5 separate regions of the Homo sapiens genome follow, and all the other regions are reported to be linked to region 4. Evidence: microRNA targets listed by miRTarBase, many of them from high-throughput screens and not tested one by one. Region 4 holds a microRNA gene; each other region holds the end of a gene's coding sequence. Distances are between the middles of the regions.

Region 1 (4,142 bases), not on the chromosome of region 4:
GGTCATCCTGCTGCCAGTGCAGCTGCTGCAAGCCCTACTGCTCCCAGTGCAGCTGCTGTAAGCCCTGTTGCTCCTCCTCGGGTCGTGGGTCATCCTGCTGCCAATCCAGCTGCTGCAAGCCCTGCTGCTCATCCTCAGGCTGTGGGTCATCCTGCTGCCAGTCCAGCTGCTGCAAGCCCTGCTGCTCCCAGTCCAGATGCTGTGTCCCTGTGTGCTACCAGTGCAAGATCTGAGGCTCTAGTGGGAAACCTCAGGTAGCTCCTGAAGATCTGTGCTTTCCAACAAGTGACTACCCTTGAAGCACATCCCCTTCTGGATCTGAAAAGAGCCCTTGGCTCAGGGCGTCTTTTTCCAGCCCCTGAGGAAATGGAATGAACCACTCCCTGCCCATTCCCTATAAGAATATCCCAAGACCCAGGCAATTTTGCCCCTCTTTCCCACATGCCCCCATATGTCTGAGCCAAACTGCACTGGGGGCTGCCCTCATGCCAAGCAAGAGCCTGGAATTCCCCTTCTTGATAATTCCATGGGAGACAGCAAACCCTTCTTTCCTTTGCCTGCCAGGAGCTTCACGACATTTGCAGATGGATGTCCTGCAACCCAAATGATCACATGTATCTATGGAAATCCAAAATGCATCTGGGTGCAGCACTAAATAAATTCTCCATCCCTCAGCCTTGGTCTCACTGACTCTTTTCTTCCAGCCTCTGTCTCATTGGCAAACTGGCCACATGTCCTTCCCCTCCTCCCTGATAGCTTATTGCTCCCACTGCTGTAACAGTGTGCCAGGCCCAGCTCCCATTCCAGAAACAGTTGTTGAACTGATTAATGAAGGAACCACTAGCAGTATGTATGAATGAATGAAGACGAGGAATGAATGAGTGAATGAGTGAGTATCTCTCATTAGTACACAGGGAGTCCCAGCTGTATCTCAGTGGGATTCAGTCTGTCTTGGTTGGAATTTGGACTCCTACTTCTTCCCCATGGGAGGATATGTTTGGGAGAGAAGGAGAACTTTGCCCTCAGTGCCTAGGAAGGGATGTAATGGGTGCTCTCTGGGTCCAGCCAGTCCCCAGTTTGTGGGTCAAGCCAGGAGATGGGGAAGCGAGACTAGAATGAGCTGTGTCCCTGAGATGCTCTGTAGGACAACACTGGAAACTGTGCTGCTTCAAGGATCCAAGACGGTGTGGCTGAACACAGGCTGAAGTGCACCCTCCATCTCTGGGCTCAGAGTGAGGAGGAATCCAAGTGTCCACAGGCTTCCCAGCTTTGGTTTGGCACAGGGAGGAACAGAAGGGACTTTTCTCAGCCTGATAAAGGCCATCTACCCACAGTGAACACGGTGCTTAACTATGAAAACCTGGATGTTTTCCCCTAGGATCAGGAACAGGAAAAGAATGTCCACACCCACCACTTCTATGCAACATTTCACTGAAGCTATAGCCAGAATAACATAACAGGAAAAGAAAATAAAGCCATCCAGGTAAGAAAAAAGGAAGCAAAACTATCTCTATTCACAGAAAACCTCATCTTGTATACAGAAGATGCTGAGGGACACACACACACACACACACACACACACACACACAACTATTAGAGCCAATAACCGAGCTCAGCAGAGTGCAGAACACAAGGACTATACACAATAGTCAGCTGTGTTTCTTTACAACAGCAAAAAGCAAGCAAAAAGGTTGTAAGGAAACAATAAAATTCCTGGGAACAAATGCAACCAAAAAAGTACAAGACTTGGACACTTAACACTACAAAACACCATTGGAAGAAGTTAAGGAGGACCAAAGTAATGGGGGAAAAAATCCTATGTTCATGTATTGGAAGACCTAATATTGTGAAGATTGAAACACTCCAAAAAAAAATTGTTCTACCAATTTAATGCAATTCCGATCAACATCTCAGATTTCTTTTTTCAAAAATTGACAAGTTGATCCTAAAATTTATGTGGACATTCAAGGGACCCTAAATAGCTAAAACAATCTTGAAAAAGAAAAGCAAAGTTTGAGGACTCAGGTTTTCCAATTTCTAAATGGGCTGCAAAGCTACAGTCATCAAGGCAGCATGGCTCTTGCATAAGGATAGAAAGATGGATCAATGGGGTAGGTTTGAGACTCTTGAAATAAAGCCTCACAGTTGTGGTCAATGTATTTTCACAGGTACTATACAATTCCATGGGAAAAGAGGAATGTTTTCAACAAACAATGCTGCTAAGACAACTGGATGTCCACATGCAAAAGAGTGAATTTGAATCTTGACCTCATACCATATACCAAACAAACAAAAAAAAAATAGAAAAAATAGATCAATGACCTAATTGTAAAAGCCAAAACTAGAGGATTACTAGAAGCAAAACAGGTTAAGTTTTCATGACCTTGGAGTATGAAATGGTTCTTAGATAATGACACCAAAACCACAGGGAAAAACTAGATTAACTAACTACATCAAAACGAATAGTTTTTGTGCTTCTGAGGGCACTATGAAGAAAATGAAGATACACCAACAGAGTGGAAGAAACTACTTTGAAATCATATATTTGATAAGAACTTGCATCTAGACATATAAAGAATTCTTACTACTCAAACACACAATCCAATTAAAGACCCAGCAGAGGATTTAAATAGGCATTTTCCAAAGAAGATATACAAATGGCTAATAAGCACATGAAAAGGAGCTCAACATTGTTAGACATCAGGGAAAATCAGGGAAATGCAAATCAAAACCACAATAAGATAGCAGTTCACATCCTCTGGGATGGCTATTATCAAAAAGACAATAAGAAGCACTGATGAGAATGTGGAGAAATGGGAGCCCTTGTGCATTGGATGAAAATAAAAAAATCATGCCACTACTTTGAAAAATAGTTCCTCAAATGTTCCATGTAGAGTTACCATATGACTCAGCAATTCCACTCTTAGGTAACTACTGAAGGGAACTGAAATGTATATCACATAAAAACTCATATGATGATATTCATAGCAGCCTTATTCTCATTTGCCAACAAGTGGAACCATCTAAATGTCCATGAACTGATGAGTCGGTAAACAAAATGTGGTATAGTCATACATGGACATATTCATATTCTGGATGTTATCCCCATATCATTTTTAAATTTTAGTGTTTTAATGTTAAAAATGATAGACAATTGTAGAAGACAACAAATTACTCATAACCCCAATCTCTAGAGTGCTAACATTTTGGTTGCTCCCATGTAATTTGTGTATTCGGGCATCTCATGACCTCTCTATTACCCAAGGTCACCACGGTGTTCTGCTTGCCAAGGCACAGGCTCTTCACTGGCCCCATAACAATGACCCGAGCCCCCATTGTAGGCAGAGGGTTGCATGTCCCACCTGAGTGAGTTTATGTGGGAATCCCCAGGGCCTTTCGTGTTCTCCACGCGTTGGTGGAGCGGCCCCTGCTTCTCCCCCAGGGTGTGCCTGCAGCCCCTTCCCTGCCTCCTGCCATTCCCATGGGTGGTGCCAAGAGAAGCTTTAGGGCAGCCAAGCTCCTCCTTCCTTCTTGGCATCAGCTAGAGGTTCCTACGAATGCTAATGGTTGGGGGCATGGTGGGGAGAATTCATTATTTCTTCCAGCACTGCTCTCTTAAAAATTTGTATTATCAATAGTTTAGAAAGGTTGTTTTTAGTTTCATAGCTCACTATCAATAACTATGTTAATTTTTAGGATTATCAAATTTGGGGAGATGTCATCGAATTGCTTTCCTATATGAGATATAGTATTTGGAAGACATTTCTGAAAACCAGCTCTGCCTCTGTACCTTTCCTTTTTTTTTTTTTTTTTTTTTTTTTTTTTTTTTTTTGAGACGGAGTCTCACTCTGTCACCCAGGCTGGAGTGCAGTGGTGCAATCTTGGCTCACTGCAAACTCCACCTCCCGGGTTCAAGTGATTCTCCTGCCTCAGCCTCCGGAGTAGCTGGGACTACAGGTGCCCCCCACCATGCCTGGCTAATTTTTTTTTGTATTTTTAGTAGAGACGGGGTTTCACCGTGTTAGCCAGGATGGTCTCGATCTCCTGACCTCGTGATCCGCCCGCCTCGGCCTCCCAAAGTGCTGGGATTACAGGTGTGAGCCACCACGCCTGGCCACCTTTCTACCTTTCAAACCTTGATT
Region 2 (4,000 bases), 19 Mb from region 4:
ATGTTACCCCTGAAATCTAGTTGGGGCTCTGTGGTGTCTGATTTTCCCTGGCTGCTTCTTTAGTTTTGTCTCCTTTTCCAGGCTCAACGAGGTGCTGATGGAAGCAGAAGAGCCTGAAGTCTTGCAGGACTCACTGGATAGATGTTATTCGACTACTTCAACTTACTTTCAACTACATGCCTCATTCCAGCAGTATAGAAGTGCCTTTTACTCATTTGAGGAACAGGACGTCAGCTTGGCCCTTGACGTGGACAATAGGTTTTTTACTTTGACAGTGATAAGGCACCACCTGGCCTTCCAGATGGGAGTCATATTCCCACACTAAGCAGCCCTTACTAAGCTGAGAGATGTCATTGCTGCAGGCAGGACGTATAGGCACATGTAGGTTTGAATGAAACTGTAGTTCCCTTTGGAAGCCCAGTCATAGGATGGGAAAGTGGGCATGGCTCTATTCCTATTCTCAGACCATGCCAGTGGCCACCTGTGCTCAGTCTGAAGACGTTGGACCCAAGTTAGGTGTGACACGTTCACACGACTATGTAGCACATGCCGGGAGTGATCTGCCAGACATTCTAATTTGAACCAGATATCTCTGGGTAGCTACAAAGTTCCTCAGGGGTTTCATTTTGCAGGCATGTCTCTGAGCTTCTATACCTGCTCAAGGTCAGTGTCATCTTTGTGTTTAGCTCATCCAAAGGTGTTACCCTGGTTTCATTGAACCTAACCCCATTCTTTGTATCTTCAGTGTTGGTTTGTTTTAGCTGATCCATCTGTAACACAGGAGGGATCCTTGGCTGAGGATTGTATTTCAGAACCACTGACTGCTCTTGACAGTTGTTAACCCACTAGGCTCCTTTGAGTAGAGAAGCCATAGTCCTTCAGCCTCCAATTGATATCAATACTTAGGAAGACCACAGCTAGACGGACAAACAGCATTGGGAGGCCTTAGTCCTGCTCCTTTCAATTCCATCCTGTAAAGAACAGGAGTCAGGAGCCGCTGGCAAGAGACAGCATGTCACCTGGGACTCTGCCAGTGCAGAATATGAACAATGCCATGTTCTTGCAGAAAATGCTTAGCCTGAGTTTCATAGGAGGTAATCACCAGACAACTGCAGAATGTAGAACACTGAGCAGGACAACTGACCTGTCTCCTTCACACAGTCCACGTCACCACGAATCACACAACAAAAAGGAGGAGAGATATTTTGGGTTCAGAAGAAGTAAATGATAATGTAGCTACATTTCTTTAGTTATTTTGAACCCCAAATATTTCCTCATCTTTTTGTTGTTGTCATTGATTTTGGTGACATGGACTTGTTTGTAGAGGACAGGTCAGCTGTCTGGCTCAATGGTCTACATTCTGAAGTTGTCTGAAAATGTCTTCATGATTAAATTCAGCCTAAACGTTTCATCAAGAACACTACAGAGTCGATACTGTGAGTTTCCAACCTCAGCCCATCTGTGGGCAGAGAAGGTCTAGTTTGTCCATCAGCATTATCATGATATCAGGACTGGTTACTTGGTTAAGGAGGGGTCTAGGAGATCTGTCCCTTTTAGAGACACCTTACTTATGATGAAGTATTTGGGAGAGTGGTTTTTCAAAGTAGAAATGTCCTGTATTCCAGTGATCATCCTCTAAACGTTTTATCATTTATTAATCATCCCTGCCTGTGTCTATTATTATATTCATATCTCTACGCTGGAAATTTGCTGCCTCAATGTTTACTGTGCCTTTGTTTTTGCTAGTGTGTGTTGTTGAAAAAAAAACATTCTCTGCCTGAGTTTTAATTTTTGTCCAAAGTTATTTTAATCTATACAATTAAAAACTTTTGCCTATCACTCTGGACTGTTGGATTGTTTTTTACATTCAGCGTTATAATCTTTTGTTATGCTGATTGGTTTTGGTGGGTACTGATGCGAATTAATAAAAACATTTTCATTTCCCTGTTTATTTTCTAATCTCTTCCACCTTGTAGGCTATGTTTACCATATGTAGCAGAATGCATGTACTCCATTTCTTGGTTCTAGATATTTATATTCTTTGTGAGAGTGTGTGTGTGTGTGTCTGCGTGTGCCTCTGGCATTTAGGAAGGGTTGTGTAGCTCATGTTTGATATTGACTAAAAATGTTTCATAGTTTTCCCCCCTTTGAACTAGACACACTTCTAATATTTGGTTTATACGTTTTAAATTATGACTTTCAACATCACATATTTCCATATGACAGTCAATTACATGATGTGTTTTCTTTTTCCTACCTCCTTTACCTGCCACTTCTCATAATCGTATTTGAACCTAAACATACACCAGTGACATTCTGTGGTTGTCATCTTGCCCACACCTTGGTTTTTGGTTTAGATCCACAATTAAATATATTAATGCTCATGAGCTGTTCAAAAGTGAATGTCACAGTCATCACTTGCTGAGTGGTACTCATCCTAACAGAGTCCTCATGAGGGAATCAGGTCTCGCTGAGTTTAGCATGTTTAATAATCTTCCTCACGGTCTTGATACATGGATCGCATTACTGGATATAAGGTGTTTGCCCAAAATGATTTTTCTTGTGTTTTTAGGAGCTATTGTCTTCCTTGCGGGACATACATGGTGTATGTTCTCGTTGTGGGATTCTATTTTGTTCTACCAGGACCTATAATTTCTGCCAGTTACTTCATTTGTTCTCTTCACCATGAGTCTCCAGCGGATGCTTCCTTTGTCCATGCCTCCCCATCTCCCAGCAATTCTGCGTTTCCAGGACTGGCACCTCTGGTCCTCTGCATGGTGAAGCCCCTTCCTTTCAATTCCCCAGTAGCCAGTGCTCTAATCCACCAGGTCTCAGGCATGATCTGTGTTTCTCCACATGCTCTTTCTGAGGATAGTTTTACCTGTGTTCTGTCATGAACAGGCCCTCCCTGCTGTCCTGGCCTCGATTTGCTTAGTGTTTCCTGCTCCCTCTGCCCTTGTGTGGCTCCCAGACCAAGTGAAAGAAAATCACCTGAGGGCCACAGTGTTCCCTAGCCCTGGCGTTTAGGGACAGGGTTATGGGTGGGATTTTTGACTCTCTAAGTTAACCCCTAGGGCTTTGAAGTGTCTGTTGAGAAATTCAGCTGTTATCATCCTAGGTGGTCTTGCTCTCTCCTGTCCTCCTACTTCAAATGCAGAACTTCAATCGTGTACAAAAGAAGACCGAGTCATATAACAGAACACACCCTTATTCATTGGCTGGCTTCACCAATCATCTCATGGCTGAACTTTTAAAAATACACTCTTAGCCACATACCTATGAAATGTATATGTGTGTGTATACATATGTGAATTTGCTTCTGAGATTATGGAGGCTGAAATTCCCAAGATGGAAGGAAAGCTGGATGGATACCCAGGAAAGCATTTGTTTCCTATTAGGCCTCTTAATTCTCTCCTGGCCTTTGATTGATTGTATGAGTCCCACCCCCGTTAAGGGGGCAATCTGCTTCACTTAGTCTGCCCATCCCGATCTTAATCACATGCGAAACACTCTCTGGAACATCCAAGAATTTGACATCCAAGAATTTAGCACTAATACAATAATATTATCCAATGTAGATATATTCAGCTTTCCCCATTTGTACCAATAATGCCTTGTATAGCTGTTTTTGAAAGGGAAAATTTTCAAAGGAGAAACTTTGCATACAGTGAAATTCATAGATCTTAGGTGTACATTTCAATGACTTGCACTAAATATATACTCTTCTACCATCATCTCTATATGTTGATACAGGACATTTCCATTGCCCCAAAAGTTTCTCCTTCCAGTCCCTCCCCTTTCCCCTCAACATCTTTTATTATTGTGGTAAGTAGTTCTGGGGATGATTGATTCATCTACAACTTTAGAATTTGCAAAACATATCCCCTTCACCTTTTTAAATGGAGGTAGACTGGAGAAAGGGGGATATGGTGAGTACTGGAGCTAAACAGACCCTGCCTTTTTTTCCCCCCGAGATGGAGTCTCGCTCTGTCGCCATGCT
Region 3 (4,128 bases), not on the chromosome of region 4:
ATACATAATCAGTACAAACCATATACATACCACCATTTTTCAGTACAGTACTCATTACATGTGTCAACACTTTATTATAAGATAGGTTTTATGTTAGATGATAACACCAGCATCTTGCTCAATAAATTGAAGCCAGCTTTTTCAACAGAGAACATTATTAGAATGAAACTAGATGCAAGAACAGGAAAGTAAACACCTGTGTCATGTTCAACAAGACTGAACTACGGAGCAAAGAATCACACAGTGTTGCAAGATCTTGAACTGACTAGATGATAGGATTACAAAAACCACACAGCTATTGCTGGAAAATTATGTCATGCAGAGAACAGACTGGCACGATTACATATGTGGGTTTGTCCTACACAAACCAGACCTTTAAGTGAAACAAGTCTATCCAACCATCTTCCCATAAAACCTAGTTTCTATGGAAAACAATCAATTAAGCTAAACCCCCACATTTTAGATGTATATTCATTTATAGAAGCCCAAAAGGACAGTGGGGTTACAAATAATTTTATATTTTAGATGCTTTCATAATTTAAAAAGTTAACATTACAATTTGTGTTACTAAAATGCAAAAACAGGATTGGCATGCTGCCTCATGCCTGTAATCTGAACATTTTGGGAGGCTGAGGCAGGAGGACTTGAGCCCAGGAGTTCGAGCCCAGCCTAGGGAACACAGGGAAAACCCATCTCTACGCAAGACGTAAAAACTGGCCAGCTGTGATGGCATGCCCCTGTAGTCTGAGCTACTTGGGAGGCTGAGGTGGGAAGATCGCCTTGAGCCCAGGAAATTGAGGCTGGAGCTGTGATGACACTAGTGCACTCCAGCCTGGGGAACAGAGTAAGACCATCTCCCCCACTGCCCGCTACTCTCGCTACCAAAAAAACAGCAAAAGCAGGCTAGACTCCTCTAATTTCAGGGAGAGCTAGATGTTTTTTTTTTTCTCTTTTTTTCAGTTTTGCTCTGCCGCCCAGGCTGGAGTGCAGTGGTGTGATCTCAGCTCACTGCAACCTCCACCTCCCGGGTTAAAGTGATTCTCCTGCTTCAGCCTCCCAAGTAGCTGGGATTACAGGTGCCTCCCACCATGCCTGGCTAGTTTTTGTATTTTTAGTAGAGATGGGGTTTCACCATGTAAGCCAGGCTGGTCTCAGAACTCCTGGCCTCAAGTGATCTGCCAGCCTTGGCTGGGATTACAGATGTGAGCCACCACGCCCAGCCTCATTTTTTTTGAGACTGGGCCAGGGAAGGGGGCAGTGGGCCAGGGACTGTCTCTCTCTGTTGCCCAGGCTGGAGTGCAGGATCGTGATCATGGCCCATTGCAGCCTCTACCTCCCGGGTTCAAGCAATCCTCCCACCTCAGCCTCCCAAGAAGCTGGGACCACAGGCATGTTCCACCACACCCAGCTTATTTTTGGTAAAGATGGGGTTTTGCCATATTGCCCAGGATGGTCTCGAACTCCTGGGTTCAAGCAATCCACCCAGCGTTCCAAAGTGCTGGGATTATGTTGCGAAAAGCTGAGTGTTGGGAGAAGCTGAGGCAGGGCTTGCATTCTGACATAATGTAAAAGAGTCTTGGAATATGTCCAGGGTCAAGGGTCTAAAACCCCTTGTGGTCTTTGGAACACCAAGCTCTGTGCTAAAGGGTGGAAGGCTGCCCTGACGCACCATAATCTAAGCCCAGGGCATAAAATCCCTCGTGGCTTGGATAAAATCCAGGGCCTGTGGCTCTGGAATGTCTAGACTTGCTGGCTCCTTGCTCTCCCAGGATCGACTGTAACTTGAGTTAAAAGAACCTGCTCTCCATCATCTCAAGTAGCAGAGCAAATGCTAAACCATCACAGCTGTAAATCATGTGCTTAATGCAAGGTGCCCTTCTGACCTTCACATTCTCACCATCTGTTTCTTTGTTGGATTACCAATAAATAGTGTGGGCTCCCAGAGCTCACGGCCTTCACAGCCTCCACCATCCCGATGGTCTGCTGGTCCTACTTCTCTCTCAAACTGTCTTTTTCTCAATCCTTTGACTCCACTGGACTTTGTCACCCCCACGACCTGGTGTTGGGTCTGGTCACCCTAACAGGGTTACAGATGTAAGCCACTGCATCTAGCACCCACATTATCTTTGAAAGCAGTTGAGTCTTTGGCATGCAAGAACATTCCTGCACTGCAGTGAATCTGTGAACTTACTACTACGGATGCATACCAATTCACAACCAGTGAAAGGCCACGTACCTAAAAAGGTGTTTACTGCCTCAGAATATACTTGACAATTGTGGAAACGTTAGCAATCTACTCTTCCAAGATTCCTTGGAGTTGTCATACATAAGCAAATCCATATGGACTGAGGAATAAGGAGGAAGAGGATAAGGCTTATGGAAGATAAATCATGTTCTTGCCTCCGGTAGGTAGGATTCAATTTAGTCCCTGTATAAATGACTCCATGTTAATTTCCCTTCCCATATGGATGCTAATCCAGTGACTCATAAGCTTAGACCAACAAGCTCAGCATGAAAGCCAAGAAACTTCTGTTTCTCCTAAATTCCGTAGCCGACTCTCATACAGCGAGACCCTCACTGGGCCACTCTGGGAATGACTACAAATGAATATGATGGAGTCCATGTGAATAATGGTTGAGCAGGTGAGGAAAAGGGTCACATCACAGACCTCAAGTCAGACCCACTGATTTGGAAAGCCAACAGTATACTCAGAAGCAAAGCAATGTTATACTTTGTTTTTTCTGAGACAGAATCTCACACTGTCACCCAGGCTACAGCACAGTGGGGTGATCGTGGCTCACTGGAGCCTCAACCTCTTGCGCTCACTTGATCCTTCCACCTCAGCCTCGTGAGGAGCTGGGAGCACAGATGCATGCCACCATGCCACACTAATTTTTTTTTTTCTTTTGTAGAGATGGGGTTTTACCAAGTTGCCCAGGCTAGTCTCAAACTCCTGGCCTCAAGCAATCCTCTCACCTTGGCTACCTAAAGTGCTGAACAACCACAGAGAAGCACTCTATTTTTCCCTCTATTACATTAGCAAATACACAGAAGGACAATTTAGAAACAGATTATACCCAGGAACATATGTCAGGATTACTTATGGAGGTTTTATTATTTTTATTTATTTTTGAGACTGAGTCTTGCTCTGTCATCAGGCTGGAGTGCAGTGGCTCACTGCAACCTCCGCCTCCCAGGTTCAAGCAATTCTCCTGCCTCAGCCTCCCTAGTAGCTGGGATTACAGGTGTCCACCACCATGCCCAATTAATTTTTGTATTTTTGGTACAGACAGGGTTTCACCATGTTGGCCAGGATGGTCTCGATCTCGTTGACCTTGTGATCCGCCTGCCTCGGCCTCCCAAAGTGCTGGGATTACAGGCGTGAGCCACCGCCCCTGGACTACTTATGGAGGTTTTAAAAAATCTTTTAAGTCCAGGCCTGACGTTTAGAGAAGGTTACAAAGGCGGCCAGGATCTGAGTATTTCCAAAAAGCTCTGGAGGCAGCATTGAGGTTTCCTTCCAGTTGAATCACTGACTTTAGGTCGACTGGGGTACTTTGGGTTTTTTGGGCCATTTTTTGGGGGTGTGGGAAGCTTTTCTCACAGATTTACTAGGAGTGGTGAAAAACTTGGCCTCTGGCTTTTTTGGAGTCTGTCTCGCATCTTTTTTCCCCAGCGAAGGACTTTTTTCCTTCACTGCCTCTTCTTTGATTTTTGGCTTCTTCTCTGGGCTTTTCCCTGGGGTCTCAGACTCTGCAGCTTTTGGGGTCTCAGATGCTGGCAAAGCCTTTCTTTTCTTCCCACGAGGTGTGCTGGGATTAGGACTCTTTGCTGGAGACTTCTTTCCTGTGGCATGTTTTTGAATCTAAGAAAAAAAAAAGTAAGTTTAATATAGAAAAAGCCACAAAACCTGACACTCTAACTCCAGGAGTTACTGTTTTTATTTGTATTTATTTATTTTTCAGACTGAGTTTCGCTCTTGCTGCCCATGCTAGAGTGCAATGGCACAATCTCAGTTCACTGCAACCTCTGCCTCCCGAGTAGCTGGTATTATAGGTGTGTGCCACCACGCCCGGCTCATTTTTTGTATTTTTAGTAGAAACAGGGTTTCACCATGTTAGCCAGGCT
Region 4 (4,149 bases):
GCACTCAGTAAGTGCGTGATGAATGATGAATGGATTTAGACAGGCAGACAGTTAGAGGCAGGAAAGTAGTTCTCTGAATCCAACTTGCTGATATGACAAATTCTCTTAAACCCAACAGCTGTTACCAATAGAAAAAAGTAGTCTCTAAACTCTCTTTTGGTACCTCTAAGACTCTGTGGCCACAGTGTGAGGAAGCAGCTAGTGTCCCCTGTGGAACAGAGCTGAGTATCCTTTGTTTGCCTGATGTCTGGGGGCTAGGATACTAAAACTAGGACTGCCAGTATCTACCCCTGAGAAACATGGGTCTCTGCATGACATGGTTACTTGACAGCCATCTACCCAGCTTAGGGAGATACCTGTAACATTCTGGGTTTCTAAGTTAATATATGAACTGACTTTTTAGGTTGATATAGTCTGTGCTTCAGACACAAATAGTTTTAACCCTCAATATGATTATGCTAAGGCAGAAGGAAAAGGAGATTCCCTTTTATTTTCATCTAGGTCTCAATTTCCACAACAATTTCAACCCCAACTTATCATCATTATAAATAAATGTCAGCCTGGAAACTAGGTATTGGCTGTGGCAAAGCTAAAATACTGATACCTTTTGCAGCCAAGAAACAGAAGCCAACTGCTCTTTGCAAAGCTATTGAAGTAGGTTCAAGGTACTTGTGTTCCACTGAGATCTCCCTTATTATTTTACAAAAAGCACAAATCACTGAAATCCAGACCTAACTTGGAAAAGCTCTTGGGTAATGAGAGGGTATACAGGAATGAGAGCCTCAGAACCAGCTGTGTAGGAAGCTAGGCAGCAGGGAGACACCTGCATTTTCTAGCCGTGACCTGTGATTGTTTAGTCTCCAGTTATCCCCAACTACAGCTGATCTAGTATTGAATATGATCTTTTTGTCAGACAAAAAGCAAACCCTTTAAAAACCCCTTCCAGAACCCAAAATATCTCTTGCCAAAAGCTGTGAGAGCAGGACAAGAGCTCCTCCTATGCTGCTTACTACATCCTCTTAAACTGTTTATGAACTAGACAGTATCTAGGACACTGAGAATCAAGTGGAGGCACCTAGGTTTGTGTTGTTAGGACAAGGCACAACTGTTCTCAAATCACTGGAATGGAAGAAGGCATATCTAAGGCTCTTCTGCATTATGAAGACTCATTCTGCCAATGGAGGTCAAGCCAGCAAGGAAATGATTATGCTTGGTTTAAAGAAATGGGTGAAAAGATAATGACATTTCAATGGGCAGGAACTTTCAACTCAATAGCTTTAGTGGGGCAGAAGTCAGGCCTCAACTACCTCCTACCTTCAAATAATCTTTACTTGCTTCTCTGAAGAACAAGCGAAACTCTCAAGTATCTTTGAGAAGTCAGGGCCTTGGACTCACAATTCAGTATTTCTGACTAGTTCCTTTTCCCAGCAGTGGGAGGTTGCCCCAAGTGGCAGAACAATGCTTTAATGACTGGATCAATCCAGAATGGGGCACTTGCTCAACTTTAGCAGTGGCCTCCCCAACTACAGGGCTTGCTCTTGGAATCTTTCCAGAAGCTGAGACTGACGAACAGTGCCAGAGAAGAGCAGCATCACATCCTAGGGCCATCTCTACAGTGTTGTGCAACCAGCCCTGACTGGAAAAAAGTACATTCGCTTTAGTAGCAAGAGTGAACTGCTGCCTCCTTCAGAAAGGGTGGGTTTTGGAGAGTAGGCGTTTTAAAGGACTTTAGGAGGTGCCAGCCAATTTGAAGCCTGGGAAAACTTCATGTCTACAGAGGATTAAAAATGCTATCTTAGAATTTCAGGCCAGCTTTCAGCAATCTCAACCTTTCAAAGGCCAGGCAGCAGCTGTCCCGAATACGATGCCAATCAATGCCTCGAACACCTACAAAGAACTAAATCCAAGCAACAAGAAGCTGTTTCAGCTAGACACACTTTAAAATCAGATGGATCATAGCATTTTGAGTCTGGCTAAGATGGAATAAGGAGCTGTATGACACCCCGAGAGACCCAGAAGCACTGAGGAATTTGGAGGAACTGACAGGATGTGACCCTTCTCTCCAGCCAGTGTATTCAGCAGGCAGCCCACAGAAAACAAGGAGTTAGCACAATGAGAGTGAGCAAGGCCTGATTTCATCACAGAGCTCACAATCTTGTTTTAAAGGGGGCTTCTGATAGACAAAAGGAGAAAACAATTTCAACAAGGAAAGCAGGTGTATGATACTCTTTGTTCTGAAGGAAGATAAATGGCCTGAGTTCTTGTTGTGACTTCTGAGAGAGGAGGGAAGGACCCCCAAGAGGAGGAATTGAGCCTGTGGGCACAAACCTGCAATGTTTCAAAGCCGGTGCGTAGCTGGGGACGACCGTGGCAGCCTGCCGCTGTAAACATCCGACTGAAAGCTCCTCTGAACACCTTACAGCTTCCAGTCAAGGATGTTTACAGTAGCAAAGACTGCCCAGAAAGAACGGAGACGCAGTGAGGCACACCCTACTCTAGTAAGGAGGTGACAGAGGGCTTGCTAATCCAAAGGCCCTCATGCAGGGTCAGAATTACAAATGTTCATTAGGATGCCCACTTCTCCTAGACTTTCTCTGACTGGTTATTAATACAGGCTGGGATGGGGAGAATGGCTGTCACTGAATGACTGCTTCTAAGGATAATATACTATGAAATAATTCATTAAAAATAAAGTTTTATATAACAAAGCAAGCAGAACAAGGCACAGCTTTGCTCCTGTGAGATTCTGCCACAATTTCCCAAGTGGCACCTAGTGAATCATGCAATCTGCATGCTTAAAACAATGAGCTCTAAAGGACAGAGGTCTATTACAATCACAATTAAGAGCTATATGCACCCAAGGTGCTGAAAAAACAACTAGTGTGACCTTTGGAGAGGGGCAGGCAGAAGAGACGGGAAGGCAGACGTTCATATTCTTTCTTGTGATTGCTTGCAAAACAGCTCAAGTGGTGGTTCTCAAATCTGACTGCACATTAAAAGCATCCAGGGAGTTTTAAAAGGTACTGATGCCTGGGCTCCATCATGAGATTCTGATTCAGCTGATGTGGGTTAGAGCCTGGGCGCTGATATTTTTAAAACCCCAACAGGTGATTCTAGTGTGCAGTCAGGGTACTATATAAAGATATAATGAACCACAATATAGAGGAAGAGAAAACATAGTCCATTCACTCCAAATGCCACTGTGCACATAGAGAAGCTGTTTCTTAAAAATCTAAAATCTATAACTTTCTGGGAATATTCTCCTATCCCAGATGAAGAGCTCTGATAGACTTCCTAAGATAACTTGAAATGAGCTTAACTTTACCATTTGTAACTAAAGTCTTTCATTTTCATTTTGTCTATTTTCACTGAAATACCACTTCGGAGGCACTGAGTTAAAAGTATCCAGAAATGAGTAACAGAAGGAGATGTTAAGAATGAATCTGGTCTAGAAACGAGAAGCAAAAGGAATAGCAAATGACTTGTGCTGAGAGAGAAGGAGCGTATCTGACACCAGTATACAAAGCGCTCTTCAGTCAGCAGCAACTGCAATCCCTTCACAGCTCACCTGACGCTTTGGAGGTTTCAGTTCATCTCTTGGAACAATATCGATGAGAAAATCAAACTGATCAAATTTTGTAATTGCCATGGCGATATCATTTCTCTGTAACAAAGAAGAGCGGTGTGAAAAATTAGCCTGGGGAGAAACTAGTTCACTTGGCTTTATACCCTCCAAGTAAGGTAAGACGACTTTTAAGCCAAACTAAACACCTACGGGCAAGTCTACAGCTGAAATAAGCACAGCCAAACTCATATACTTTAAATGATCAGACCTGGTGGGCAACCATCAACAAAAAAGAAAGAGATACATGTAACTCACACTGTAAAATGGGGTATCTGAGCCTCCAACCACTGCTACTCCTGCTTGATCCTCTCCCCGCGATTTTCAAATTACAAACCTAGTAATCTCAATTAGCAGGTTTCTGGTCATTCTGTGGGTTAGCAAAGTTAGGTTTATAATCTTTTTAAGGCCCTAAATAATATTTTCCCTTTGGTTCACAAGTATTGAATTAGGTAAAATCCTAATTCAATAACTTTTTGCAACATTTTCAAGTCACTGGATCTATATACACTAAGTTCTCACAAGCT
Region 5 (4,122 bases), not on the chromosome of region 4:
TTACTGAATCAAAGATTTCAACAATATCATCTACCTTGAAAGTCTGTGAAGCTTGGAGGTCATATAATCAAGGTGGCTGGCCATGCTGCCTGCTCAGAGCTGGTAGAGACAGCAGAGGAAAGCAGCTGAGTACTCCTGAGCTTATTTTTCCAACACCACAGAACAACGTTCTCTGAACAATAAGGTAAAAGCATTTCTAGGTACCCTCTGTACCCTTTTGTTATTTTTTATTTTTATTTTTTGGAGACCGAGTCTTGCTCTAGTGCCCAGGCTGGAGTGCAATGGCGCAATCTTGGCTCACTGCAATCTCCGCCTTCTGGGTTCAAGCAATTCTCCTGCCTCAGCCTCCTGAGTAGCTGAGACTACAGGTGAGCGCCACCACGCCCAGCTGATTTTTTGTATTTTTAGTAGAGATGGGGTTTCACCATGTTAGCCAGGATGGTCTTGATCTCCTGACTTCATGATCCGCCTGCCTTAGCCTCCCAAAGTGCTGGGATTACAGGTGTGAGCCACCACACCTGGCCGATTTTTTTTTTTTTTAAGAGACAGGGTCTTGCTCTCTTGCCCAGGTTGGAGTACAGTGCCACAACTACAGCTCACTGCAGCCTTGACTGCCCAGGCTCAAGCAATCCTCCCACCTCAGCTTCCTCAGTAGCTTGGACTACAAGTGCAGGCCACCATGCCCAGCTAATTTTTGTTTTTTTTTTTTTTTGAGATGGAGTCTCACTTTGTCACCCAGGCTGGACTGCAGTGGCGTGATCTCGGCTCACTGCAACCTCTGCCTCCCAGATTCAAGCGATTCTCCTGCCTCAGCCTCCCGAGTAACGGACTACAGGTGCGTGCCACCATGCCTGGCTAATGTTTTGTATTTTTAGTAGAGACGGGGTTTCACCGTGTTAGCCAGGATGGTCTCGATCTCCTGACCTCGTGATCCGCCCGTCTCGGCCTCCCAAAGTGCTGGGATTACCAGCGTGAGCCACTGTGCCCGGCTGATTTTTAAATTTTTTGTAGACATTGGGTCTCGCTATATTGCTTAGGCTGGTCTTAAACTCCCAGCTTCAAGTGATCCTCCCATCTCAGCCTCCCAAAGCGCTGAGATTATCGGCATGAACCACCACACTTGGCCCTGGTATAAATATTAATAGCATCACTTTTTACTCTAAAGTCTCGGAGTTTGAATAATAAATTAGTCCTTCCAGGAGTAAGTTATAAGAGTTTGGTTTTAAGGAAGGGCAATACACTTAAATGTAAAACAAAATCCCAGGCAAGTTAGAGAGCTCACCCCTCTTATGTTTCCAACATGAATCAAAAGCCTGTTTCAGGGGGGACATTAAAGGCATTCAGTCAATGCTAAGGCTCAGCAGTTTGTGTGACTACTGCTTCCCACTGGGGAGGAGTCCTAAGCAAGAGGACTGGGGCTTCCTCACCCCAGGGCAGGTGGGAGCCCCATCAAAGGTGGCACCTGACATCACAGTCTAAGTGTCTGAGGATGGAGAGACAGGCTGCTAGTTTATTTTAAAAGAAATCAGAATGTCTACTTATAATATTAAGTGACAACAGACTTGCCTCCTTTTTGCTGAGCAGAAAGGGTGAAAAAACCAGCCAGGCATGGTGGCTCACACCTGTGATCCCAGCACTTTGGGAGGTGGGTGATCACCTGAAGTCAGGAGTTCAAGACCAGCCTGACCAACATGGTGAAACCCTGTCTCTACTAAAAATACAAAAATTAGCTGGGCGTGTTTGTGGACACCTATAATCCCGGCTGCTTGGGAGGCTGAGGCAGCAGAATCACTGGAACTCGGGAGGTGGAGGTTGCAGTGTGCCGAGATCGTGCCATTGCACTCCAGCCTGGGCAACAAAAGCAAAACTCCATTCCCAAAAAAAAAAGAAAAAAAAAAGGGTGAAAAACCAATTTGCCTTTATCATCGTTTTTTCATCATTTAATCTCTGGACTTGTCCACTGGCCTTTTCTCAAGTAGGCAGGCTGGTCCACAGGTCTTAGCAAGTGCTCCCAGCATGCCTGGGCTGTGGTGGACCTCCCATTTATAGACAAAGCAAGGGAAAGCAAGCCCAGGAGAGGTGGCATTTAAAAAAAAAAAAAAAAGACCAAAGCAATAATTAATAACCTTATGGCAGTGGCTACATTAAAGAAAGAATACAACTCATTGAGAATGGTGGTTCTTGCGAAACACCTGAAGTTTTACTCATGGTACAAAAGTATTTAATAAGTGACACATCAGTACAGAAACACAGAGCTTGTAGCTTGTCCTTTAAAACCAGAATGGCCAAGTGAAAAGTCAGTACAGATTCTTATTTTTACTATTAAAAAAAAAAAATCAAAGGGACACACTGGGAATTGAACTACTATGCTTTTTCTTCGTTCTAGAGATGACATATATGTTTTCTGATAAGTAATCTACCACACATTGCACTAAACCAAAGCATACAAACAGCCAGTAAAGCTGTGCTCTACCTGCTACTCATGCTGGGCTGGACAGTGGAACACCATCTTGGTAGGAGAGATTTTGACAGGAAGAAACTGCAGAGTCCCTACCTAACCCAGAGAACCTTACAAACTGGTTTATACACAAAGGATTTTCAGCAAACATGCAAACACACTAACATGCTATAGGAATATGTTTTAGTCTATTTCTAGCACACAGCATACATTCATAGGTGCCCAGTAAAATAGGAATGAATGTCAATGTAGAAAGCATTTTTGCCTTCACAGTACTAACAAACACCTAAAAAGCACACAGCATATAATACTTTGATCTTTAAGTGGATAATCATGGAAGTTCCAAGATCACATCCACTAGGTTAGCCTGAGTATTCATCTATAAAAATATTTTTTTTTTCAAAAATAATGCTTAAAAGAGACTTCTAGAAACAGTGGGACTACATCAGGACCAGAAGACAGTGACACAAGGACTGCAAATGTTAAGACTAGGAGTAGCTTTTCACATGGAGCTTTTATGTAGAGGACGTCTCCTTCTGTTGATTCCTACAGCCGAGACAAGATGTGATCACAGGAGACTCCAAAATCTCAAACTGGGCTTGAGTAACACCCTAGATAAACATCAGGAACCCCACTGAGGCTGAAGTACTGAAACTGTGGCCCATGTGAAAAAGAGGTGCAAGTGCACAAAGATTCATGCAGAGCCTGCTGGAACAGAGGGTGGTGGCGGCGGGTTAGTCCACACTTACACACCAGCAGGTATGCTGGGGAAGGGCCCCCCAGGTGGAGTGCCTGACATAGGGCTCGCTCCAGAGGCGTCTGACTCAGAAGCTCCTGAGAGAGGTGTCTACTTGAGGTGGGGAGGAGTACTATGGTTAATGAATACAAGAAGGTGTTTCAGGATAAATAGGTCCAGGAGGGTTAGGTCATTTTGGTTTTGACCTATTAATACTTAACATAAATGAAGAGTTACATAACAGAGTCAGTCTTTCCAAGATGTGTTCTGTCATCATGAGCTGAGCCTATTGGGCTGGTGACATCCAGAATGATCCCATTCATTGGCTGGAGGTAGGACCTAGTGCCGCAGATTGTTCTGGGAAGCTGGCAGAGAAGATGATTTGCACAATGAAGTCACCACTAAGCCACTGCTTAAGTCCAGTCCTCGGCCTTCTTTTTCCTATATGAGAAAACAACCAAAGGAAGGACTAGAAAGAGCCCTGGCTTGGAATCTTGCCTCTGACATGGGGAAGGCAGAGCTGAAGGTGGGAACGTGGACCTCCAGAGTACATAGGAAGGGAACACAGGTTATTGGTTATTCTGCATTTCTGCTCAATACTGGCCTGCCCTAGTCTTAATTTTTTTTAATATTATTTTTAAAGAGGTAGGGTCTTGCTCTGTCACCCAGGCTGGAGTATAGTGGCTTGATCACAGCTAACTGCTGCCTGGAATTCCTGGGCTCAAGTGGTCCTCCTGCCTCAGCCTCCTGAGTAGCTAGGACTACAGGTGTGCACCACTACAGCTGACTAACTTTTTTATTTTTATTTTTGTAGAGACAGGGTCTTGATATGTCACTTAGGCTGGTCTTGAACTCCTGGGCTCAAGTGATTCTCCTGCCTTGGCCTCCCAAAGCGCTGGAATTGTAAGTATGAGCCACTGTGTCCAGC

What was found. The annotated mature microRNA hsa-miR-30e-3p reads CUUUCAGUCGGAUGUUUACAGC and lies in region 4 at 2,381-2,402, opposite strand. An mRNA with a match to its seed (bases 2 to 7 or 8) in the 3' UTR can be bound and repressed. Matches are read on the target gene's strand: a 7mer-m8 pairs with bases 2 to 8, a 7mer-A1 pairs with bases 2 to 7 and ends in A, and an 8mer does both.
Region 1: miRTarBase lists KRTAP5-9 as a target of hsa-miR-30e-3p. Seed matches in the 3' UTR shown: 7mer-A1 at 319-325.
Region 2: miRTarBase lists NBPF3 as a target of hsa-miR-30e-3p. Seed matches in the 3' UTR shown: 7mer-A1 at 1,371-1,377.
Region 3: miRTarBase lists RSL1D1 as a target of hsa-miR-30e-3p. Seed matches in the 3' UTR shown: 8mer at 954-961 and 8mer at 37-44.
Region 5: miRTarBase lists ARL2BP as a target of hsa-miR-30e-3p. Seed matches in the 3' UTR shown: 7mer-A1 at 2,596-2,602.

The regions. Positions count from the first base shown.
Region 1 is chr11:71,548,935-71,553,076 of GRCh38, forward strand. It overlaps KRTAP5-9 (keratin associated protein 5-9), which reads left to right. Exons shown (of 1, transcript NM_005553.4): 1 at 1-674. The coding sequence ends at 233. Among named protein-coding and RNA genes, the nearest start is that of KRTAP5-9, 2.6 kb to the left of the region's middle. RefSeq lists enhancers at 1-449, 1-51, 1,450-1,499.
Region 2 is chr1:21,483,062-21,487,061 of GRCh38, forward strand. NBPF3 (NBPF member 3) reads left to right here. Exons shown (of 15, transcript NM_032264.6): 15 at 82-1,839. The coding sequence ends at 325. Among named protein-coding and RNA genes, the nearest start is that of ALPL, 24 kb to the right of the region's middle.
Region 3 is chr16:11,834,249-11,838,376 of GRCh38, forward strand. It overlaps RSL1D1 (ribosomal L1 domain containing 1), which reads right to left. Exons shown (of 9, transcript NM_015659.3): 9 at 1-3,865. The coding sequence ends at 3,539. Among named protein-coding and RNA genes, the nearest start is that of BCAR4, 7.5 kb to the left of the region's middle.
Region 4 is chr1:40,752,666-40,756,814 of GRCh38, reverse strand. It overlaps MIR30E (microRNA 30e), which reads right to left and starts at 2,460; the gene lies at 2,369-2,460. It overlaps NFYC (nuclear transcription factor Y subunit gamma), which reads right to left. Exons shown (of 10, transcript NM_014223.5): 5 at 3,569-3,664.
Region 5 is chr16:57,251,679-57,255,800 of GRCh38, reverse strand. It overlaps ARL2BP (ARF like GTPase 2 binding protein), which reads right to left. Exons shown (of 6, transcript NM_012106.4): 6 at 2,166-3,635. The coding sequence ends at 3,534. LOC124903697 (a long non-coding RNA gene) reads left to right here and starts at 4,009. Exons shown (of 2, transcript XR_007065082.1): 1 at 4,009-4,097.